Linked DNA regions of Homo sapiens: all the other regions are linked to region 1. The links come from fine-mapping of genetic effects on gene expression. A gene starts in region 1. Each other region holds a variant in brackets. All regions are shown on one strand. Distances are between the middles of the regions.

Region 1 (8,175 bases):
CTCACACCTGTAATCCCAGCACTTTGGGAGGCCGAGGCAGGCGGATCATGAGGTCAGGAGATCAAGACCATCCTGGCTAACACAGCGAAACCCCATCTCTACCAAAAATACAAAAAAATTAGCCAGGCGTGGTGGCGGGCGCCTGTAGTCCCAGCTACCTGGGAGGCTGAGGCAGGAGAATGGCGTGAACCCAGGAGGCGGAGCTTGCAGTGAGCCAAGTTCATGCCACTGCACTCCAGCCTGGGCGACAGAGCGAGACTCTGCCTCAAAAAAAAAAAAAAAAATAGACTTTAAAAAGTGTCTTCCCAAAGCCTTAATTCCCCTACTCTGACTTTTTCCAGAATTGCTCCAAGATAATCCTTGGTCCTTCCTCTTCATCCTCTCCAATCTGCTGCCACTGTTGTGAGAATGCCTTTTCATGGGGCCAGGCCCCCAGCTCACCATGGGCAACGACTAAAGGTCAAAGTGTCAAGCTGCCCTGGGGTTGCCTGGGGAGAAGGGCAGGGCCAACCTTTCTGGCATGACTTGCTTACTTGAAGCAAATGGCAATAGCATGAGCCCTGGAGAGAAATAAAAGGCAGCTTTGTTTAATTACACAAACGGAGAATACCAAGGCTCAGGGAAGGCAGGTACTTCCATCCTGGGCAACGTCTGGGCTCATAATTCTTCAGTAGTATTTCCCACACCCACCAGGGACATGCTTTCTAGGAAATTGGCCAGATACATTAGGGAAGAGCTGTACCCTGCATCCCAGTCTTGACAATCCGGAAAGCACAACTGTATATCAAAGGCTCGGAGAAATCCTGCAATAAAGAAGTTGACTGTACTTTCTGTCATTCAGCAGTCCCCAAATTTAGAATCATTTTTTCCATGAATGCCTCCTCAGAGGAGACTACCCCTTGCCTTCCTGTGTTCCTGCGATCCCATTTATTTCTGTTCCATCTCCTTCCAGCCCCCTCTCTTCCTGGCCCTTGTCTGGCACCTGCCCTCACTCCTTGAGTCCTTCATTGGATTATGTCACATACCAAACTTCCTAGGAAGTTTCCCAAACTGATAAAGAAAGGCGAGGTGGGGAAGAGAAGGTACAAAAACGACACATGTCCTTCTCGGTCAGTTTCCCTGGCTACAGCTATACCAAAATGACTACTCTGCAGAGAATTAGAGGGCAAATCCTTGTAATCTCTGAAAATCAGGAAGAAGAAGTCCACAGGAGACATGGAATCAGAATCTTCTCTTCAATTAAGCTTCCTAACACCATGGCTTCCAACTTGAGGACTTCAGCCCTGAAGGCCTATTACAGAAGTATTCAACCTCCATTCATTCTCCCTGACAAATGCAGCTGACCCTCTTGGAAATGGATTCTGTGTGCACTTGACCCATAAACTTCCCAAGTATAGAGCATGTCAGAGTGGAAGAAGGCCATTTAAGATCATCTAGGGGTCAGATTCTAGTCCTCTCTCTCCCTTCTTTGAAAAGATGCGTAACTGAGGCCCAGAGAGGGCAAGTTACTTGCCCGAAGTCACACAGTGCTTCAAGTCTATGACTTAACAGATAGTCCTTTTCATTTGACTTGTCTCCATGGAGCAGAAATTGGAGACTTGCAGGGACTTCCTACTTGCCAGAGACCCGAGCCCCAGCCTTCACCAGCAGGAACAGAGATGCAACCCAGGGAGCCAACGAGCCATCTAAGTCAGCTCCAGGCCTGGAAAGTTGGCTCTCAGAGGGAGGCCCTGCCGATTCTTTTGCTCCCGTTCCAATCCTGTTTAGGCTACTGCTAATCATGGTTAGTGCCTGTGCTGGCTCAGGGCTTTGTTCTTCCAGACTTCTGTTTTCACCACTTGTCTTGTGGGCCTTGTCTCTGCAAACCCAGGGCTCCAGAATGTCAGGAAGACCAGAGCACAGAGGCCAGGGAGGCCAGGAGGCAGCCGAAACGGGAGCCGCGAGGAAACATCACATGGAAACATCGTCTGGCCACACAGCCCTCCAAAGAGGAAACCCAGGTGTTTCTATGCCCTTGCAAAAGGCCCTCTGCCAGTGCACCAAATGGGGCTACTCCTGGGTAACCACACTGCCAGAACCGGCAGACTGCTTGGATAGTTTTCTTCCATCCTTATTACCTGGAAACACACAGGATCTTAGAAACCCACACCAGCTTCAACAGTCACTGAGGGCTCTGAGCTGAGACCCAGGCCACAGAAACACACAGGGAAAGTGGCCCTGTGGACACTAGGCTTGGCTGTTCACGCATGGGGTAAAAGCTGAAAAGGGAGCTAGCTGGAACTACAGCTCATCAAGTGGGGTGGACCTGTCCCACCTGCCTCCATGGACTGGCCAGACCCCCTGTGCCCAGACGGCTATGCCTGGGCTTTCTTCACAGCTTCCACGTCCTCCATGGGAACACAGACAGGTCATCGTCTGGAGAGGATGCAGCCCAGAACTTTCCCATTGACTCACACACCCATTCAACATGAAGGGAATAATACAAATACCAGCTGCCGTTTACTGAGCACTTATTACATGCCAGGCCCTGTTCTAAGCCCTTTACAAGCATGGTCCTGTTCATCTTCACAAAACCCAGCCAGCTAGGAATAAGGTGCCGGTTTTGTGGAAGAGAAAAACAAGCAGCAGAGTGGCTCACCCAAGCTGGCACAGCAGAGTTAGGATTCAAACTCGAGCCTGCCTGATGGCAAGCCTCATGGCCCTCCTGTGGTGCCGCCTGCCTCCCACCAACATGATTCTGTGAGTGTCTCACTGCTGTCCCCTACCACCAGTGGATATGTTACTCTGCGTAGCCAAGCCAGGCATGTGGGTATCAAGAGGGTCCCTGGACAGAGATGGAGGAGAGAAAATGCCAACAAAGAACAGGGGAGTGTGCTCAGAAAGGGACAGAGACCACCAGGAGGCTGCTGGCTGCTGAGGGTCCGCAGCGCTGGTGGAGGCACAGGAGAGGGAGAATGTTCTGAGTACAGGGAGGAAACAGAAGGAGGCAGAGGCCAGGGATGTGTCCATAGACATGACATGGAGTTTGGTCCGGCCAGAAGGGTCCAGGAGCAGAGGCATGCTGGAGAGCAGAGGCATGCTGGAGAGCAGAGGTATGCTGGCGCCAGAGCGCACATGATGCAGGACAACGTGATGTCAAGGGAGGCAGGGAGGCAGGAGAAGGCAGAGACTGGGCCTCCGAGCAGTGTTGACTGCCCACTTGCCCACAGCTGGAGCCCCACCATGGGGTGCTCGCCTGGCACCACTTTTCTGCCCAACTGCTGGCATCTACCCTGGCGCAGGGTCTTCTGGAGAAAATGAGTCAGCAGTGTGCTCACTGGTGCCGCGCGCGCGTATGTGTGTGTGTGTGTGTGTGTGTGTGTGTTGTGGTGAGGGGGTGCGGGGCGGGGGAATCGCAAACAGCCAGCTTTTTCCAAGACATGGGGAAGAAAGGAGGGGGTGTCATCCCGCGGACTCCAGCTCAAAGGGGGCAGGGCCCAGCTACAGCCCTAACAGCCTCTGGGGAGTGTCCTGGTGTCCTGGGGGCAGGATGGAAAGAGAGGAGCGCCGTCCACAGGCCCCAACGGGCTGCTTGCATGCTGCTGGCTCCCACACACACCCACACGCTGCGCCGGCTCCAGCACAGGCTCACTCTCTCTTACAACTCCTACTCCACACGCTGGGAATCCCAGCCTCTGGGCCCCAGCTCCGCGCAGCCGCTCCTGGGAGAGTCCCTGCCCCTCTCCGGCCCTGTCTCCCGATCTGTACACTGAGGGGTTCCGCACAGTGATCGCCCAGGGCCCTTTCTGCTCTGACATGCTGGCTCTCACTTTTTCTCTCTTACACACGTGAAAGGGACAGGAACCGAGAAGCAGGAAACACAGACACACAGACCCAGGCCGACTAACACAAACACGCGGAGATTTCCAGAAACGCGGGGACGTGCAGAGCCACACAGACACGGAGACAGGAGCAGAACCCGAGACCTGGTGACCTAGAAACTTGCGGACAATTTCACAAGAACAGATAGAAACGGAGACGTACAGGCTTGGGACCTGCAGACACTGAGACACCGGAACACACCGAGACGGCCCCAAACGGAGACCCCCCTCCTCCCCCAAGCATCCAAAAAGCCCCCCTCCGCACCCCGCCGGCCGCTCCAGGCGCCACCACCCACCCCCACCCCCGACCCCCGGGCTGGCTCTGCCCCCGCCCCAACGGGATCGGGCAGCCGGGCCAGGCGCGGCAGGGCGGGCAGCGTTCGCCAACTCTCGCCCGGCCGGGGGCGCAGCCCCTATTAACCCTTGGCGTCCCGCCTCGCGGGGGCGCAGGAAGGGGCAGGAAGCTGACGTTCCGCTGGAAGCGACCGCATGGCGGGGAACCCCGGCCCTCCCCGAGATTGGAGCAGCAGGAAGCTAGGGAGGGGGCGTCCCCGAGTTCGTACTCACCCCCCGCGCGCCGCCGCCGCCGCCGCTGTGCCTCGGGCCCCCCGCGCCGATCCCGCTCCCATGGCAGGCCCCTACTTCATGCTCCCGAGCCCGGGGGGCAAGTGTGGGCGCGCCCCATGGGGCCGCCAGCCCCCCGCCCCGCCGCGCCAGGCCGGCTTAGAGCGCGCGGCCCCCGCGCCCCCAGCGCAGCCCCGCGCCCAGGGGCGCCCGAGCAGGCAGGCAGCGCGGCTGGGGCCCCGCGGGCGCCCGCGCCAGGCCCATGGTCCCAGGAGTCCGGGCGCCGCGCTCGCCCCTGCCTCGGTCCTTTTCTGCTTCCACCAAAAAGGAAGAAGAAGCAAGAAAAAGAGAGAGAGAGATGATCAAACTTTTGGAGGCGGGCTGCTGGCGGTCCCCGGAGGCAGAGCAAGGCCGGGTGAGGGCGCGCGGAGGGCGGTGGAAGCTGCCTCCCCGCCGGCCTGGGGGAGGAGAGGAAAAGGAAGGATTTGGGGGAAATGAAGGCGATTTAAAGTCTCGGCCCGCGGTGGCTCTCCACCTTCCCTCCTCCCCGCTCCCGGCCGCCCTCTGCTGCCCCCTGCTGCCCCCTGCCGGCCGGAGCCAAGGGTACAGCCTCAGCTGGCCCACTACAGCCCCGATGGGACACCCGCCCCCCTCCTCCTTGTATAGATGGGGAAACAGATTCACAGAGAGGAAGGGGCTGCCCAGGGCTTCACGGTGATTTGATCACCGTTCTGAGATTAGGAACTTCTGACTGGTGAGGCTGGGGGTCCTCCAATGGGGGGTTGGGGTAGGGGAGAAGGGCCAAATTCTACTCCTGGAAGAAACCCACAGTTTCAGGGACGGAGCTAGGACCAGAACTTGGTGTCCAGACGCCCACGACAACCAGTATCGTGATCCCCACCGCCCACCAAAAGTTTGCGCTCCCAGACTCGGAGCGCCCTGGAGAACATATAGGGTGGGCTTGTTAAGGGTTTGCCACCCTCTCTCTCCCTTCTGTCAGCAATTGGAATCTAACCGCACCCCACCACCACCACTAACCACGCACCTCCCCAGAATCGACAAAAACTCCCTCGGATCCCATCCGGGAGCTAAGAGCTGCACACCTTGGCCCCCGGGCAAATTCTCACACCCAAAACTCCAGTCCAGCCCTGGGACCACAGCTCCCTCCGCCTCTACCACCTCTTGCCACTCGTTCACGAGCAAAGTTACACTTATTCACCGGTGCACACACACACTCCCACACGTATCCACCCTTTCCCCAAACTCAGACACACGCTCACACACGGTCCCATTCTGGGACAGCCACGCACCCTTCCTAGGTTCACACGAAACGCATCCTCAGATATCTGGGCTCAGGCGCACGCTGATACTCTACACTCGCAGAAGCATGCACACGGATGCTTACACAGGCACAAATGCACGCTATCCTGGCCATATCGCCCCCACACATGTACACACCCCGGGTGGACACACGCGCGCACACCCTCACTTGCACACAGTTCTCCGAGAGTGCCCACCGCACATGTGCACACACGCATTCACTCCTCACGCGTGTACCCACCTCCCCATACGCGCACACCTTTAGGCGCGCGCACACACAGGCATATAACACTTCGCACCGCTCCAGGAGCCCCCAAGCACTTACTGGGTCCCTACGTGCGAGGCTGGCCGGTCGGTCCTTCCTCCGGCGCCTAACGGCATTTGTATTCATGGGTCCCCGCAGCCGTGGGCGCGGGGGCGGGGGGCGAGGTCCCCTTCCCTAAACGGGGCGCGGGCGCGCGGAGCGCAGCGGCACCGGGAGGGGCATGGGCGCGCGGGACTGCGCCGCCGACCCGGTCCGCCTGCGCTCGAACTTCGGCAGCTCTGCGTCCACGGGCTCCGGCGCGGGCTCCGAGAGCTGGGGGCGGCTCATAGGTGCTGGGGCGGCGGCGCCCGCCGGGCCTTTTGAAGTCTCCGCTGGGGGCGGGGAGGGGGCGCTGAAGGCGGCCTTTTAAACCCTGGCTGCACGCGGGCTCGGTCGAGCAAGGTGTCTGGTTTCAACAAACTTTAGGAAAAGTCCCAAGCCGAGAGAGGGGAGGTAGGGGGGTTGGGGGAGCTGCATAGCTGTGCGCTGCTTCCTGCAGAGGGCAGAGCACCCATGGCTGCCAGGAGGGAGGCCAGTCGCGGGACTGGGGAACTGGCAGGCTGCTGGCCGGCGCGTGGAACCACCCCCGCCACCCCCGCACCCCCAATGTTGAACCAGAGTTCTTAACTTCCATGTGCACGAACCCCAGGGAGTGCAGGAACACCCCCAAACTGTGCACAAATTGAGCATGTTTGTGCATTCTTCAGGGGAGAGGGGCCGTGGGCTTTCCTCCGGTTTTCAGAAGTCCACGGCCCCCTAAGGTTGAGAACTCCCTCTTCAATCATAACTGATGTTTTTTTAGTTGCATACTTGGTACCATGCAGACCCTGTCTTTATTTACATTTTAGATATTTTGTTCATTGTGGGGTTTTGCATTAATTTTGATACTTTTAAAAATATTTTAAAAGTAAAAAATTAAAATATTATTTTGATTACTTAGGGGTTTGGGGCACTGCTTTGGGCAATTTACCTCCGTTGCTGAGTTTTCTTGGCATCTCCTGGTATGCTGCATCTCTGCATGTGCCACACCCTAGTCCAGACCCTGACCCACACAGTGCTGGGGTTTAAGGGAGGCCTGCTTTTTTCTCTCCATTTACAGATGGGAAAGCTGACATAAACGGGTAGGTGGTAGAGGTGGGATTTGAACCCAGGTAACCTAACTCCAAACTTCTGCATCTTGTCATAAGGATCCAAATCTTAGGCTTTAAGGGGTTCTGTGCAGATCCTCAGCAGCCTCCCCAGCTTCAGATCCGGCCTCCTGAGCTCCAGTCTCTCTGATACCTGCACCCAGGCTCAGGTAAGCTTGACTACTTCGATGCTTTCTCCATACTGTTTCCTCCCAGGTTCTCCCTCTGCCCCTTTTCTGCCTGTTCACAACCTGGTTATTCTTCTAGGTGCAGGCCAGAGCTCACCTGACTCTGGTGAGCTGCTCTGCCCTACACCGGGATTGCAGCACACATCACATGGCGCTGTCATTGTCAGATCCATCTCTGTGTCCCCACACCCAGCCTGACACATGGAGCCTGGGATACAATAGATGCTCAAACCGTTGGTAATTTAAATAAGTTATTTGTTTTAACTCCTACAGTATGCAAACCCCTGTACAAGACTCTGGGGGAAAAGGGTCTGCCACTGTGGGGGCAGGGACAAAAATTTCCATATGGTCCTGCCTTCTGGTCATGCACGCATTTGTAATGTGGACAGGAGACACGCACAGCAACTTGGGGTAGGGAAGAGAGTCTGGATGGGAGACATCAGACATCACTATGTCATGGAGAACCCCCTGCAACTGCATAAAGGTAAGATAATATAAGGAGAATGTGATAAATGCCACCAAAGAGATGCAGATCAATTGAATTGTGAAGCTGATTAAGGGATGGAAAGAAACCGAGGAAGGCCCCCAGGAGGAGGTGGCATTTGGATCTTAAAGGGTGTGTTGGATAAATGTGCAGCCACAGAGGAGAAGGACATCTCCGGTGAAAGAGTCACAAAAAGACCAAGAGGACAGAGTTGGATTTCAGGCAGGTTTTGAAGGAGGATTGAGGCGGTGGGGCCCAGTGAGAAACTGGGGAAACTGTCCAGTTCTCCCCACTGTATTGTGTGGGTGATACCACACGACTCACTGTC
Region 2 (8,175 bases), 21 kb before region 1:
CAGGAGGCTTGATCAAGGTCATACAGCAGATTTGTGGCCAAGTGAGATCAGGGTCCAGGGCCTGGTGGCTTCAAGTCCAGAGTTTATTCATGGCGCTGGATTTTCCCAGGCCATATCCAAGTTCCCCGATAACAGCTGGGTCCTGTTATGTCCACTTTCTCCAGCAAGGGCCCTGGCCTAGAGTCTTCCAGCACAGTAATATAAATAGAGCCCTAAGAGCCGGGGAATACTTGAGGGTTTTTGTCTAGCAGGAATAATCTGGGGCATAGGAGGTGAGGAGAGGCACCCTCAAGGGTCCAGTGGTCCTCCCAACCCCACCAGCCTCTAGGCACACTGCCCTCTTCCCCGTCCCTCTTGATTCATCGGGCTAACTGTGTGTGAACTGCTTTCTTCTTCCCTCTCTGAGGCCAGCTTCCCAGCTGCAGCCTGTCACATTCCAACCAAGGCACCTCCCTCTTCCTCTCTTCCTTGATGCCTGAACTGGGACCCTCCCCTTCTCCGAATGCACCGGCAAGGAACAGTGTCCAGAGCACACTGAGCCTGGGGAGTTTCTCAGTGCCTCTTGTGACCCTCCTTCCAAAATAATCAGCCCTCCTGCCCTCCCCTGCAGTCCACCAAACACTGTCTCCTGGCACGCGACAGAACCTGGAAGCATCGAGACTGAGTCCCAATTCTGAGCCCCACCTCATAATCCCCAGCCTCGGTCTCTCCCTCTGTTCTGTAAGTGACTGGGACCCAGCAGTCTCTAAGGAATCTGGAACACCCTCCGATGTTCACCCCAGCCCAGGCTTGTGGGGTCTAACCAGGTCTAACCACAAGCTCAGTGGGAATTGGACAGAGGTTGGGAGGGAGTGTTCAAGGAGGGGTTCCTGACACCCAGTTCCACCAGAGCCAGGCGTAGGCTGCACAAGGTCAAGGGCGGCTGCCTCTCCCCAGTCGTGCCCCAGCTGCCCCACAGATGGTGGGCCAGAGCACTCAGCTCCCCCATCTGCAGCTTCTGAAGGTGGGGGCTTCCTGTTTCCCTGCCCCCCCGTCCCCAACCCTCTCCAGTATTGCAGAGAAACGAGGCACATAGTTGACTGAAAGCCAAGCAGACCAATTCTATAAATGCTGCAGCCTAGAAAGCCAGGTGGGGGAGGCTCTGGGATTCCCCAACATCCCTCCATGGGCTGGGGGAATATGTGGAGGTAGGAAGGGGCAAGACAGAGAGCTTTGGGCGACCTCAGGTAAGAATGCCCCTCCTTAAGCCCCAGAGCCCCCATCTGTGCAGAGAGGAGCTGGGATTGTTTAATCCAGCATTCTATTATCTTTGGAATTTTATAATCTATGGAATTTCCAGTCTAGAAACAGGATGATGGTGGGACGGCGGGCAGGGAGAGTTGGGGTGGCGTGCAGGCAAAGAGCCTAGAAGCGTGTCAGGAGAGTCATTCACCCAGAGCTAGGTGGAAACTTAGAAATGCCTTACCATGACCCCAGCCTTTATAGATGGGGAAACTGAGCCTAGAAGGACAGAAGGGACTTGCCTAAGATTCCACAACTTCTTGGTAGAAATATTCTTGACTCCTACATTAGAACTCTTCACCAATCATTTGCCCAGCACCTCCAGCACGCAGGGTGCTCTGCCAGGCATCACGTAGGAGAGAGAGGTAACCGAGGCCTATCTCTGGAGGGGCTCAGGTGAATACTCAGAAAAATAAGCACAATAGATGCTTAAGATGGTAGGCTCTGGGCTAGGCGCAGTGGCTCACACTCATAATCCCAGCACTTTGGGAGGCCGAGGCAGGTGGATCACTTGAGGTCAGCAGTTTGAGACCAGCCTGGCTAACATGGTGAAACCCCATGTCTACTAAAAATACGAAAAAATAGCTGGGCCCGGGGGCGTGTGCTTGTAATCCCAGCTACTTGGGAGGCTGAGGCAGGAGAATCCCTTGAACCTGGGAGGTGGAGGCTGCAGTGAGCCCAGATTGCTCCATTGCACTCCAGCCTGGGAGACACAGCGAGACTCTGGCAAAAAAAAAAAAAAAAAAAAAAAAAAGATGGTAGGCTCTGGAGGCAGACTGCCTGGGTTCAATCCTGGCTCTGCCATTTACTCTCTTTGACTTTATCTGAAGTAACTAAACCTTTCTGAGCCTCAGTTTCCTCATCTGTAAAATGGGAATAGATTGAAACCTGTTTCTCAGAATGGCTGGGAAGGTGGAATGAGATCCTGCACATGTGGCTCAGCAAACAGAGTTTAGTGGTCAATGAGAGCTTTGAGAAAGTGGCCCATGCCATCCAGAGGGGACAGGGGAACCACTGCGGGAGTTCCAAGAAGGGAGTGGTCATCAGAAATAAAGGTGGCATTTGCTCTTAGACATGAATGGAGGACAAGTTTACAAAGGAGGACAGCCAGAGCAAAACCGCAGAGGCTTGGGGGCTCAGGAGGTTGGGGAAGGGAGTAGGCTGCCTAGGTCAACGGCCTCATCCTGGTCCCAGGCTGCAAGGTCCCATGGGCTAGCAGCGTCTGTGATATCTATGTGGTCCCCAGAGGGCACGTGCTTCATGAAGGCTCTGAAGCCAGGAGGAAATGCCGCTTCAGATGGCAGATTCCAGAGCCCTGGGCCCAGGGAGCACAGGGCCAGGTCTGGAGGGAACTAGGGCTTGGGTAATTGCATAACCAGAACCACTCGCTGGGCTCAGAGCTAAAAATATGCCCCAGGCAGCTACCTCTGCCAGGGCCTCACCAGGCACCCAGCGTGGGAAAGGCTGATTCAGCCTGGGCACAGATGCCGGGTGCTGTTGGTCTCAGCCCTCTAAGGGAAGCAGGTAGGTTTCCCTCTAAGGGGATCTCCAAGGGTTCCAGTATATGGGTAAGAGCCTGGGTTCCAGTCCTGGTTTTGCCATTTCCTACTCAGTTTCCTCATCTCTAAAATGAGAATGATCTCACTGTCCCATGGGAACTTGGGGTGGGCATGAGAGGTCAAATAAGGCAGCATAAAAGAAGGTGCCAGGCACATCACATAGGAGCTATTTTCCCTCTCGGGCTTGGGCTAGCTCAGTCAGCCACCGCAGCCTGCCAAGCTGTCCCCCAGCCTCTCTCCAGCAGGAGGAACTCAACTCCTCCCCGCATGGCCCCTCCAGGTACCTATGTCCGCACCCCTACTCCAGGAGAGCCCTGCAGAAACAGGAAGAGGGATGCAAGGGTCATATATTCCCCAAGGCAGTTTTCCTGGCCAAACACTGAAGCTCACCAGCCGAAGGGATGTGATCTTCTGGAGCCCCTTCCCCACCCCAGGCTGCAAAGGGTGATATCCCCAATGGACAACTGAGACCTACAAGAGGTCATTGCTGTTCCATGCCATATCTGTCCATATAGCACCCTTGAGAGCCCTAAGTCCACTCCAAATGGATAAAGCCAAATATGGGTGCCAGAGAGGGGGAGGGAAGAACCTGAGGACACACAGCAAACCCGAGACCTCAGGGGCAGTGAGACGCAGGCCAAAGAGCCACCAAGAGTTCCAAAGGACAGTGTGAGATAACTCACCCGAGGCCCACGTGCACCAGGGATTCCAGGTAGCCCAGGTAGCCCAGGGGGACCCTGAGGAGAAAACAAGAAGACAGCATTAGACAGTGCCCACTGGCAGCAGAGAATGGGCTCAAGCAGTCATTCAACAATCCCGCCTGCAGCTGTGGGCATGGATAGTCCGCGGCTAAGAGGAGGAGTCCCCTGAGGTCCCTGCCCTGAGAAATTCATGCTCTTTGGGGCTTTTGGGCTTTCATAGCTACTATTCAGTCACTGACGCCCTCATCATTTATCACCCAGCTAACTTAGGGTGTCACCTTCTCCAGAAAACCTTCCCCAAGTTGGACAAAGTCCCTTCTTTTCCTCTATTTTAAAGACCGCTATCTTACTTGGGGAATTATCTGCTTAGAAGCCTGTGTCTCCCATCAGATGACAGTCTCCTCAAAGGAACTAAGGGGATATGAGTCATCTGCCTATCCCCAGGGCTCAGCCAAACGTTTGATAAAATAAAACAGCCAGAAACCTCAGAGCTCAGCCAAATTCTCTGCAGAATCAGAACAGAGAAGGGACTTGGCCAAGGTCACACCAAGTATCTCTGCCCCACAAACAGGCAGCACAGCACACAGAGCATGGCATGGGTTTTTGAATCAGACATGCCTGGGTTCAGATCCCTGCCTGCCGCTGACAAAATGCACAAGTCTTTAGCCAGCTTGTGCCCATACAAACGGAGGCAATAAAACACTCCCCATGGGATTCCAAGGATGACATGAGAGATGATAAATGTTAACACGGTGCCTGGTATGTAACTGGCACTCAAATTTTCTATCTGTTCCCATGGCCACAGCATGGTCCAGCCTTCATCACCACTCCCCAAGAACCGGCAGCAGCCCCCTCAGTGGTCTCCCTGCCTCTACTCTCTCCTCCCTCCCCTCTGCAGTCCTCCTCCACACAGCCTCATTCACCTTCCAAAAGCCCTCCCCTGCTCAACAACATTTAAGGGCTCCCCATTTCCCACAAGTGAAAAA[C/T]CTAACCCTGAAGCTCAGCATTTAAGGAGCATCTGTGTGTCCTCATCTCTTTTCTCTTTACACAGGAAGGGAGGCAGCCGAGCAGACTTACTGAAGGATGAGCTGATCTTTGTTCAAATCCTGGCTTTACCACTTAATAGCTGCACACTTCCTGCAGTTCCTCCCACTTATCTGAGTCTCAGATGCTCCCCGTTAAGATGGGTCCAATAGCTACCACTGCATTTACCTCGAAGGAGTAAATGAGGATTAACTAAGCGCCTGATGTGAAGAACTGTGCCTGCAGCCTTTGAAGGAAGCCAGGCTTTCGAGGATGTGTGAGGCCTGGGGAATTCATTTGTTTCAAATAACCATCAATGAGATTCCAGATTTCCTGCCCAGAGTTAAAATCGGTGTTGAAAACCCAGTCTGGTTTGGCTGGTAATTAATCCAGATCTCATGCTGGGCAGTCTCGGCTCACAGTTCTGGCCTGTGAACACCACGTGCTTGCTCGTCCATGAATAAAAATCAGAGGAGAGATCCAGACAGGCAGATATGGGTACCAAGGTCACTGGGCAAGAGCCCTGAGCAGAAGGAGGAGGGTCTGTTTTGTGACCTCGGGCAAGTCCCAGCTACCTCTGAGCATCCAGAGACCTCTGGCCAAATTGGCGGCAGAGTTCCAGGGGTGGGTAGAGGGGTTGTCTGGTTTTGTGGGTTCTGGACTCTGGGTGCCAGTCTTACCCACTTCTCCTCTCCAGCTGTCTCTGGGCAGTAGAGTATGGTGTAACACCACGGGCCTGGGTTCACATAGGGCACCCCCCCCCACCCACCTACTATCTGGGTGGCTTTGAGCAAAGCTATTTCCAGGCTCCAAGCCTTTTTTCTATTACTGTAAAATGAGGTTAATAATAGCACCTAGCCGACAGATAATCTATAACAAGTGCTAATCCTGGTGTCTGGCACCCAATTAATGCTCAAAAAAAATGTTAGCTGTTATTTCTGTGAAGCAAGCTTCTGGAACGTCCTCAACTCAAAATTTTAAGCCATCCTCCTTCACATCTGTTTCTAGGGGACAGCAAAAGATGTCCCTTCTTAGAAGGCCCTCCTTGACCCAACTGTCCCAGGTGGACCCAGAATTAAAGAAAAAGCAGGGGGCTGAGACGAAGCATACTGTAGGTATACCATGCCGTTTCAACAGGTAAGAAACCAGAGAGAGGTTCAGAGAGGAAAAGTGACTTGCCCAGTGCCACACAGCTAACAAGAGGCAGAGCCTGGATTCAAACCCAGGACCACTGGACCTGTTCTCCTACCCTGGGCAGCTGCCACACAATCTTGGTTGAGTGTGACTCTAACTAGGTATATGGCCTTGAGTAAGTCCCTTCTCTTCTCTGGACATCTGTGAAATGAAGATCCTGGAAACTTCCTGGCACTGGCATTTCCTGAGTTGCGGAAAGCCAAGGTGGGGGTAATTTCCTCTGCTACATTATCAAGTGAAGAGGAAAAGCGAGATTCTTCCCATCTCACAGAGAAGGCAAAGACCCAGCAGGGTGAAGGGCTTGTCCAGGACTCCGGGGAGGAACAGGCTCCGTGGGTGCAGCTCCTTCATGGACCCTGGTGGGGCTGCAGCTGCAGAGGCCTGGACACTCCCTCTTGGCATGTCTTCTGCCCCAGAAATAGGGGCATCCAGGATAGAGTCTGACCTCATCCACCACATCTGCAGAGCAGACTCTGAGTGCCACTCAGGACCCAGGGTCCAGCCTGGTGATGTCAGCCCACAGGCGGACTCCTTGACGGGGCGGCCCCAGCTTCGGGCCTGGCCAATCCCTTCACTCCACCTTCAACCTGGGTGGGGACCGCCGGCTGCCCAGTGCTAGCCACGGGCTGGACCCTCCCCTACTCAGTGCCCACTTTGCTCGTGGCGAGCACGGGTGCCCCCTGGCCCCTCTCCCCTGATCCGAGACCCTGCCTGTTCTCTCCGCAGTGGAAAAACGCTGCCATTTCTTTCCAGGGCCTGAAGCCTGAGCGGGTGACTCTGGGATGATTCACGAGGCCGGGGTGGGATTTTCCACTTTGCGTTGCAAACAACGGGGCCTCTGAGAGGGCCTGGAGCTGAGGGGGAGCAGAGCGGGGGCTCAGGCCTGCCTGGGGGAGGTGGAGGAGGCCTGGGCTCCAGGCGTACGCAAACAGAGCCATGGAAACAACCAAGCAGACCCCTCGGGGCTTCCCCCAAGGGTCCTGGCCTCTGACAGCCAGATCTAGGGGAACCCCATCCTACGGAACAAGTCCACCGTTGTGTCCAGCTGGAAGAGCCTCTGCCTGCCAAGCAATGAGAGGTTTTACAAGCCTGGGGTTTAGGAGACCAAAGTCCGATCCTAGGTGTGCTGCTACCTACCATGTGACCCTGAGCAATGTCCTTTTGATCTCTAGGCCTCGACTCTGTGTCTGTAACCTGTTGGGGGTAGATAGGGGGCCTCAAAGGGCTCTCCCATCTCTGACCATCTGAGCTCATGATTATTCCTAAGAATTCACACAGGGCACCCAGACTTCCCTAGCCTCTGTCCTGGGAAGGACCTGCTGGAACAGAGCTTCTTGGCATCAGTACAGCTCTGTATGACCTTGAGCAAGTTACTTAATCTCCCTGGGCCTCCGGGCCTTAGTTTGTCCAGCTGTGAAATGGGAATGTAATACCCATATTCTGAGATGGCATATGCATGCTGGTTCTTCTCCATTTACTCCCCAGATCTGTGCCGTGCCCTGGGAAGCTGACTTCTACAGATTATACCCCGGCCTTCCTTGACCTCTGGCTTCCAGCTGGGTTTGGCCAATGGGAGACCCCAGGAAGAGAGTGCACAGAAGGGAGGACAGGGTATATTTCTCTCCCTGTGCCCTCTCTGCTGTGCTATAATTTGGCTGCAGCTGTATTCGCCCATGGCCCCTGCTTCTGTGAGGAGACCCCTGCTCAAGGTTTTAACTCTTATTGGGTTCTGGGAACATCTTTCCCTGGGACCTTCTGGTCTGGGTGTGGTAACAATTTCCTGCAGTTTCCAGGCCCCTTGTGTTTCACCTGCCTCTGCTGGTTCCCTTGATGCTGTCCACCCCTCCGTAAATAGTCTGTTCCTTTAACTCTCCCCAGTGAGTCTGGGCCCTGCCTGGAGGTCAGGAGATCGAGACCATCCTGGCTAACATAGTGAAGCCTTGTCTCTACTAAAAATACAAAAAATTAGCCAGGCATGGTGGCACATGCCTGTAATCCCAGGTACTTAGGAGGCTGAGGCAGGAGAATTGCTTGAACCCAGGAGGCGGAGGTTGCAGTGAGCTGAGATCGCACCACTATACTCTAGCCTGGGCAACAGAGCAAGACTCTGTCTCAAAAAAAAAAAAATGGGGGCAGTCCTCCCCCAAACCCCCGCTGTCTAGCTGACATGTGTCATGACACTCTTATCCATTCAGGCTCCCTGCTGTCCCTGCTCCACCGACTAACCCCAGGTTAGTATTTTCATAGCACAGTTCTCCAAGCAAATGTGAGACTATGTCCAGACCCTCCCAGTTCTCTCAGTGCACCAAAGTCCCCACCTCAACACCCACCATCAGTCCACAATCACAGCCATGACAATCTACCAGGACCCAGGTTTCATATGTGCTTTACTCCCCTCCCCCCGACCCCCGCATCTC
Region 3 (8,175 bases), 38 kb after region 1:
GGTAGGCGGGTGGGAGCTGTTTCTGTGGTTCTTGGCGTCCAGCTGAGCCCACGGGCCCACGAGCCCACGCTGGGTGGGAACTTGTGTCAACCACTGACTCCTGTAAATCGCAGGGGTAGGACAAGGTGGGACTGTCGGCGGCCCCAGAGAGAAAGCTGAGCCTGTGTACTCTGGGGAGGTGACCCGGGGGGACCCTGAGCTGCTGCTCGGGGGCGTTAATGAGCGCTCCATCTGGTGCCATCCTCAACCACTAGCTGACGCTGACACAGCATTTCATCCTGGAGAGAGAGAGCATGTGTGTTCCAAGGCTAGCAAAGGCTCAGTTTTTCCGATCCGGAAAAATCTGTTCAAAGAAGGGAAAATTGAGGATGAGGAGCCGAAGATAGCCTGATTTGTGTTTCCTCAGTCTGTAACTTGAATGGTTCATGGGAGACTATCTCTGTCAATGTGGAGCTGCGGAGACCCAAGCTCAAAGAAGCCTGGGCCCCAGGAGGAGGCCCATGCCAGGGCCAGCATGGAAATGCAACCTTTCCTCTCCCAGCCCAAGGCTCTGACTGTCCTGCCATCCTGCCTCCCTCAGTCAGGGGCCAGCTGTGCCCTTGGCCCCAGTGGAATGTGTACCCTGGAGTTTTTTTGCCCCTGCTTTGGATTTAAGATCTTCCTTTCTCTGAAGCCACAGAGTCAACACATATTTTTACTAGGAGGCATAGTAGGCAGGGCACCCAGAGCCCAGAGCCCTGCCTTAAGAGGATTTATTATCTTTTTCAGGAGACGGGAGGGAGCACAGATGTGAAACCATAAAAATGATCAATGTGGCCAATGCTTACGTGGGACTTGGTGTGCACCAGGCACAGCTCTGATCTAAGGGATGTCCATGTATTAACTCATTTAATCCTCACAACAACCTATAAAGTATTGTCAACCTCATTTTGTAGATGAGGAAACTGAGGACACTTAAGATTGAGTAACTTCTTCTTGACCACACAGCTACGAAGTTGCAGAGTTGGGTCTCAGACTCCCAGGCAGCCTGGTTCTTGAGTCTACTCAACCAAAGAAGACACTCATATGGCAAGTGTTAATCCCTCTGTATCAGGCACCATCCTCAGTATTGGGGACCCAGTGGTGGAAAGAATAGACCAGGGCTCTGTCCTCAAGGGACTTGTCATCCTTCTTTCGCTCACTTATTCATCTACATAGCCACCCATCCACCATCCATCCATCCATCCATCCATTTACCCATCTATCCATCATCCATTCATTTATTTATCTGCCTATCCATCATTTAACCATCTATCCATCTATCTATCCACCCATCTATTCATCAACCTATCCATTATCCATCTACCATCCATCATCCATCCATCCATCAACCCATCCATCCATCATCTATCTATCCAGCCAGCCAGCCATCTACCCATCATCCATTCATCTATCCATTCACCCATCCATTCATCATCCATCTATCTATCCATCTACCCACCCATAATCTGACCAGCATCCACCCATCCACCCATCCATCAACCACCCATCTGTGTCGATTTTTATTCATTATGTATCTCCCATGCTTGGCATAGTGCCTGGACATAACAAGTCCTCAATCAATATTTGCTAAAGGAATGAAGGAATGAAGACAGACTTGGGCCCCGCCCCAGAGCACTGGGTTCTTGTCCCTTACCCTTTCCCAGTCACAGCACCATAAGGTAGTAAATGCTGCCATGACCACCTTATGGGATTCTTGGGAGGCTTTAACGGCAAGTAGGTGAATGCCTTACAAACTGTAAAGGGCTCTAGGGGCATAGTCAGCATCAGGCTACTGAGCTGGTGTGCAGGCACTGAGACCTGCAGAGCTGTGTCTCTCTCCAGTCTGGCTGGTGAGACCTGTCAGACACTTCCCCTCGACCTGCCAAGAGGCCCAGAAAGGAAAGGAAATTGACATTTAATGAGCATCCATGAAGTGCCAGGGACCTTCACATACTTTAACCCTCTCTTCTCTTTTCTTGTACAAATCAAAGAAATGGAAGCCCAGAGAGGTCCACGATTTGCTCAAGGTCACATAGCCAGAGAAGAGCAGAGCCCACATTCTAACCTCGGTCTGTGAGCCCCAAAGCCTGTGCTCATGGCCCTACCTATGCTACACCACTTCTTCTTAAAGGGGATGCTGTCAACTTTTCCCTAAGTCCCCACTGTTCAGGGTCACTCAGCAAGCTCTTGGTAGAGTCTTTTAAAACACGTTTCCATTTAGTTTTTGCATAGATTATTTCCTTTTTGTTTTATGGGACACCCCCCGACCCTCCCCACCCCCCCACCCCCACCCAGCCACCAACTTTTATTTGCAAAGAAAAGCCAGTGTAAATATTCCCTCCCACCCAGGTTAACCCTTGTCTGACAGAGGTGTATTCTGTGCAGCTCTCTGGGGGAAAGGATGAAAGGTCACCCGGGCTTGCCTGGGCTTCCTGCAGGGCCTGTTTGACAGACCCTCGTGATAGTTCACACACACATGTATCTCTGCCGCCTAATGCCATGGGTGGCAGAAACCCCTGATTCTCAATTTACCAGCTTCTTATGACCCTCAGCACAGACCAGCCTTCTAGGGTCCAAGTGTAAAGGAGACAGTCTTCCTGGAGTCTCTACCCTTGCACTGTGGGCTGGAACAGAAAAAGAAGTGCCCTCAGCCACTGTTCCTGGGCCACCCACCGAGGGCCTGGCATAGCACTGGGCACTTCACCAACATCCTCTCACTGAGTCTTCTGGAAAGGAGGGCTTGGTCTCAATGACCCCATTTTACAAATGGTGAAGCTGAGGCTCAGAGAGGCAAAGTCACCTGTCCAAGACCACACAGCTGGCCAGGGGAAAACTAAGCATAAGACACGGTCCTTGCTTATAAGTTGCTTTAAGTCCAGGGCTAAAAGTAAGACACTGTACATGTGAAATGACAAGACAGCCCCTCAGGCCAGGCACTATCTTCAGTGCCGGGAACAATGACCCAACAGGAAACTGGTTGAAGCAAGTCCCAGTTCTGCTACACACTTGCTGAGTGACCTTGAGCTGGTCACTTTCCTTCTCTGAGTCAAACATCTCAGTCTCTTATGCTCTTTCTTATGTAGCATCTGGTAAGAATGTATAAAGTAGGACCTCGTAAGGGCGTGGGAGAAGATGGCTGAGGTTTGTGGAATAGCACAGCATTATGGCTAAGAATTACTACAAAGCCCTCCTCCTACCATATAGAGATCCCCTCCACCAACATCCCAAGAGGCAAATCCCCAGGCAGGAGAGTTAAGGTAGACTGGGTTGGGGGGCTAAGCAGAGGATCTGCAAGCCCTGTGCCAGGCACCAAGGGGAGGAAGGAATGGCACGGGGCATTCCACACCGGTGGACAGGAATTCTCTCTAAGTCGGAACTCCAGCGGCTCCTCACCAGCCCCTCTTCCCAGGCAGCCTTCACCACAAGACCCAGCACCTCCAGTGTCCCCAGCCACAGCCCCCCACAGCACAGGCTCCTCCTGGAGTTGGCTCCAGCTCCAGCAGGCCAGCCATTGAAGGCTCCACCTCACCCCTTTAAATTCTATTTTTTCAAACCACATTCTTGAACTTGGCAGATAACGTGGCAGCCCGACAAGAGCCCTATTTACTCGGAGAGCCGTGAATGGGCCCTTTATAACAAGCTTCATTAATATTTCTACCTATTGGCCAGCTCTCCGTTTCCTCCCCCTATACAAACAGATTCTCCACACAGAAAGACTTTTCAAATGCTCTTGTTGACTTTCCCCAAACAGGGAGGGCAGCTGAGCCGGCAGGGGTGTGTGAGTGTGTGTAAGTGTGTGTGCAGGGGAGGGGGCGGCCGTGGGCTTGCGCCCGCCAAGCCTTATGCAGGAAGGAAAGAGGCCCACTATTCATGGGCAGGGACGGGCAGCTCGGGTGAGTCCAGGTATGCCATGCCTCACAAAGGCATACTCAGCCCAGCCTGCCCCACGAATTCCAGAGCCCTGGCCCGCGGAGGTAGGCCGTCCCTTCTCAGCTCCTGCTGCCTGACCAGTGACCCGAGGCAAGTCCCTGACTTGCTCTAGGCTTCACTGTCTTCTTTTGTCAGTTGAGTCTCTACCTTGCTACTCAAAGTGTGGTCCATGCACCAGTGGTATCACCATCCCCCGAGAGCTTAGGAGAAACATAGAACCTCTACCCAGATTTGTTGTCCCTGAATTTGCATCCTAGTAAGATCCCTGGGTGACTTGTGTGCACTATCGACTTCAAGAAGCATCTGATCCACTCCACATGCCTCCTCCATCACCCCCCTGCCACCACCACTCTAGGGCCCAAAGGCCACAGTGGACCTGACACATCATCGAGAAGGCGGCCACCAAGGCTCTTTTGCTCTCTAGTTCGACACCACAGCCCTGGCCCATGGTTGGGGCTCAGAAAATCAATGAATAAACAGAAAAGTGTATTGTCCAAGTCCACAGCCTTGTGCTAA[C/T]GACAGCAATTCTTCCTCTTCAGCATTTGAGAACATTGTGAAGAACTGCCCGTTCCATTGTTCTGAAGGTCGTAGAGTCTTGGAAGGGACTTTCTAATATTGCAGTGGATGGGGTGAGCTCCCTGTCTTTTGGAGATATGCAAGCAGAGGCGGGAGGACGTGTGATGGGAAGTTGGAGGAGACACCATGCCCCATGTATAAAGAACGTGCCTTTGGGGCAGAGAAAAAAAATCACTGCAGGGAAGATGGTGTCCTCACTGAGCACACCCACAGGTGAAATGGGGGCCTCTTTAGAGACGGACAGACCCGAGTTTCAATGTTGGTGATGCCTTCTTTAACAATGAGAACATGGACAAGGTGGACAAGAGCCTTCACTTCCCTTCCATCTATTCATTCAATAAATGTTGATTCTATGTGTCAAGCCCTCTGCTGGACCTTGGGGACCTGATAGTTCATAAAATAGATTCTTTATTCCTATGGGGAGAGAGACAAACAAAAATCAATAAAAAATAAATATGGGCAGGGCGCGATGGCTCACACCTGTAATCCCAGAACTTTGGGAGGCCGAGGAGAGGGGATCACAAGGTCAAGAGATCGAGACCATCCTGGCCAACATGGTGAAACCCCATCTCTACTAAAAATACAAAAATTAGCTGGGCGTGGTGGCACGTGTCTGTAATCCCAGCTACTCGGGAGGCTGAGGTAGGAGAATCACTTGATCCCGGGAAGCGGAGGTTTCAGTGAGCTGAGATCACGCCACTGCACTCCTGCCTGGTGACAGAGCAAGATGACTCCATCTCAATAAATAAATAAATAAATAAATAAATAAATAAATAAATAAGAATGCTGAGGAGAAAGTAGAGGAGGGTGACAGAGACAAGGTGTGTGCATGGGAGGTGGGGAAAATTATGAGTGAGGGGAGCTAGGGAAGATGCCACTGAAAGGTGACCTTTTACAGTCAGACCTGAAGACAAAGGAGCCAGTCACGTGAGAAGCCAAAGGAAAGGTACCCCCAGCATAGGGACAGCATGTGCAAAGGTCCTGAGTTAGGAAACACTGGGCGCTTTGAAAGGGAGGCAGCGTGGTGATCGCATTCCACACACAAGTGGGAGAGGAACCGTGGGAGGCGGGAATTTCCACCTTACAGAGCTGCAGAGGATGGATGGCACCCAATCGGTGCTCAGAGCAGGATGTGTTTGCTCTTCACTGACCCACAGGTCCTGATCAGAACTGCTGTCTGTTTCCATCTCCCGAGAACAGCAGGGGCAGTGCCTCAGCCTGGGGGCCACGGCCCAGGGCAGGGCCAAGGAGCTGCAGGGGCTGAATGAGCCGCCTGTGTGCATATTGGCTGCATACTCCTGCCTTTTTGGGGAGGGAGTGGCCTGCCCTCTCCTGGGACACCTGCCCAGCTTCAGCTGGCCTGGGTGGCTTGGACAGGAGTTCCTGACCCCCTGCCCAGTTCTCAGCAGCCAAAGGCCAGACCCTCTTGGGAGCACAGAGCCTGCCAGCCGGCTCACACCCTCCTCCCTCCTCCCTGGCCAGCCCTTAAGTACCAGGCTGGAAATAACCGGTTCTCTCCACCCCTTGGGGCCATGGGCTTGCCCACCCTAGGGGCTGAGGTGGCTGGACAGGGAGTGGCGGTGGGCTGTCCCAAGAGAGACTTCTTGGAGTCTTCGCTGGGAGGCTCCCACCCTTGGGTTAGTAGGGAGGAGTTGGTTCAATCCTGGATTTGCTGCTGCCTCTCCATGAGCCCTTCCAAAGCTGCCTTAGCATTCTGAATCTGGTTTTCCTTATCATTACAGTGGAACCGATCACCCCCTCTGAGGGCTGTTGTGAGAATTAAATAACAGATGTGTGAGCTTTGCAAACCGTGACGTACAATGCACACAGAAGACTTTGTGGTCGGGTCGGACAGTTCACTTTGTATTCGAGGTCATGAAAGGACTGAATTCTAGCATCTGGTCCCAACTTCACCTCTTAGCTAGACCACAGCGTTTCTGAAAATCTCAGTGTCCCCAACTGCAACATCAAGATCCTTGTTCCTACCTCAAAAGGTTATCATTAGAATCCAATTTATTCAAACAGTATGTGTTGAACACCTACTATGTACATTGCTCACAGCATTCTAGACATCTGTAGAGGTAGGCCCCCTTTCCTTCTTTGACTTCAAGTAATTCTTTCCAGAGGACTGAAGAGAAGACAAGGATATACTCTTGAAGGTAGACAAAGGACAAAGGAGAAAGGTTCTAGATCTCAGACTTGGTCCCTGTCGTTAGGTGGCTGGTTGAGGTCTTGGTTCAGTCTTTTACTGTCTCTATGAATTTGGGCAGGTTACTTAGCCTCTGCAAAGCTCAGTTTCCCCATCAATAAAGGAGGGAGGATATTGTGAACCAAAAATAAAATTCTAAGCCCCCTGCCCTCCAACCAGCTGGACTCCCTCCTCTGGGTCAAGGCACTCCAAAGTTCACCTGAAAGACTGGTTCAGGCCATAATGGGAAGCAGAGGTCAGACATGCCTCAGTAGCCCTCCTCCCTTTTGGGATTCAGGAAAAGCTGACCCCTATTTAACATCAACGCAGACCTGAAGTCTGATAAGGAACACTTACAATGTATTCTTTCTGAAGCCTGCTGCCTGGAGGCTTCATCTGCATGATAAAACTTTGGTCTTCACAACCTTTTATCATAACTCAGACATTCCTTTCTATTGATAATAACTCTTTTAACCAATTACCAATCAGAAATTTTTTTATTCTACCTATAAACCTGGGAGCCCCCACATGCACTCTGCTTCAAGTTGTCCCGCCTTTCTAGACTGAACCAATGTATATCTTAAATGTATTTGATTGATGTCTCATGTCTCCCTAAAATGTATAATACTAAGCTGCACTCAACCACCTTGGGCCCGTGTTCTCAGGGCCTCCTGAGTGAGGGCTGTGTCATGGGCCATGGTCACTCTTATTTGGCTCAGAATAAATCTCTTTTTAATAATAATTTTCAATTTCATAATAATTTTTAATAATAAAATAAACATTTTACAGAGTTTGACTCTTTTTGTCAATAATATTACACCACAGATGTCTGTTGCCATGGTTTAAATTGTATCAATTGACACAGGGTGCTTAGCTCAGTCTTTGGCCCATTGTGTGTGATTCATAACGTTTGCTGCTATTAGCAGTAGCTGCAAATAGTATGTAGTCATCATTACGGTAGTAGCAAAGTGGTAGTAGTATAAATAACAAGAGAAGCAATCCTGGTGGCAGTACTGCAGTAGAAATACTGGTGGTAATAGAGTAAGAAGTACTATGTTTTAGACCATTTTCATACTGCTATAAAGAGACTACCTGGGACTGGGTAATTTATAAACAAAAGAGGTTTAATTGACTCACAGTTCCTCATGTCTGGGGAGGACTCCGGATACTTATAATCATGTGGAAGGCGAAAGGGAAGCAAGCACCACCTTCACAAGATGGCAGGAGAGAGGGAGAGTGAGCAAAGGGGAAGTGCCACACTTTAAAACCATCAAATCTCATGAGAACTCACTCACTATCAGGAGAAGAGTGTGGGGGGAACTGCCCCTATTATCCAATCAGCTCCCACCAGGTCCCTCTCTTGACACATGGGGATTACAATTCAAGATGAGATTTGTCGGGGGATGCAGTAGAGGCAGTAGAAGCAATAGTAGTAGAAGTACTGGTTGTGGTGGTCATAG

The links. PIP is the estimated chance that this variant, and not a neighbour inherited with it, causes the effect.
Region 2: its variant is fine-mapped to the expression of COL27A1 in sun-exposed skin (GTEx, PIP 0.99). The same link has a PIP of 0.9 or more in esophagus mucosa.
Region 3: its variant is fine-mapped to the expression of COL27A1 in tibial nerve (GTEx, PIP above 0.99).

What each region holds. Positions count from the first base shown.
Region 1 is chr9:114,152,265-114,160,439 of GRCh38, reverse strand. It overlaps COL27A1 (collagen type XXVII alpha 1 chain), which reads right to left and starts at 4,903. Exons shown (of 61, transcript NM_032888.4): 1 at 4,428-4,903. The coding sequence starts at 4,489. LOC105376225 (a long non-coding RNA gene) reads left to right here and starts at 6,172. Exons shown (of 5, transcript XR_930256.3): 1 at 6,172-7,345; 2 at 7,443-7,600; 3 at 7,753-7,847. RefSeq lists silencers at 3,737-4,031, 4,919-5,038 and an enhancer at 6,575-7,096.
Region 2 is chr9:114,173,693-114,181,867 of GRCh38, reverse strand. COL27A1 (collagen type XXVII alpha 1 chain) reads right to left here. Exons shown (of 61, transcript NM_032888.4): 4 at 3,524-3,577. Among named protein-coding and RNA genes, the nearest start is that of COL27A1, 22 kb to the right of the region's middle. The variant C/T (reference allele first, on the strand shown) is at 4,528.
Region 3 is chr9:114,114,018-114,122,192 of GRCh38, reverse strand. No RefSeq gene overlaps it. Among named protein-coding and RNA genes, the nearest start is that of KIF12, 19 kb to the right of the region's middle. RefSeq lists an enhancer at 2,230-2,524. The variant C/T (reference allele first, on the strand shown) is at 4,468.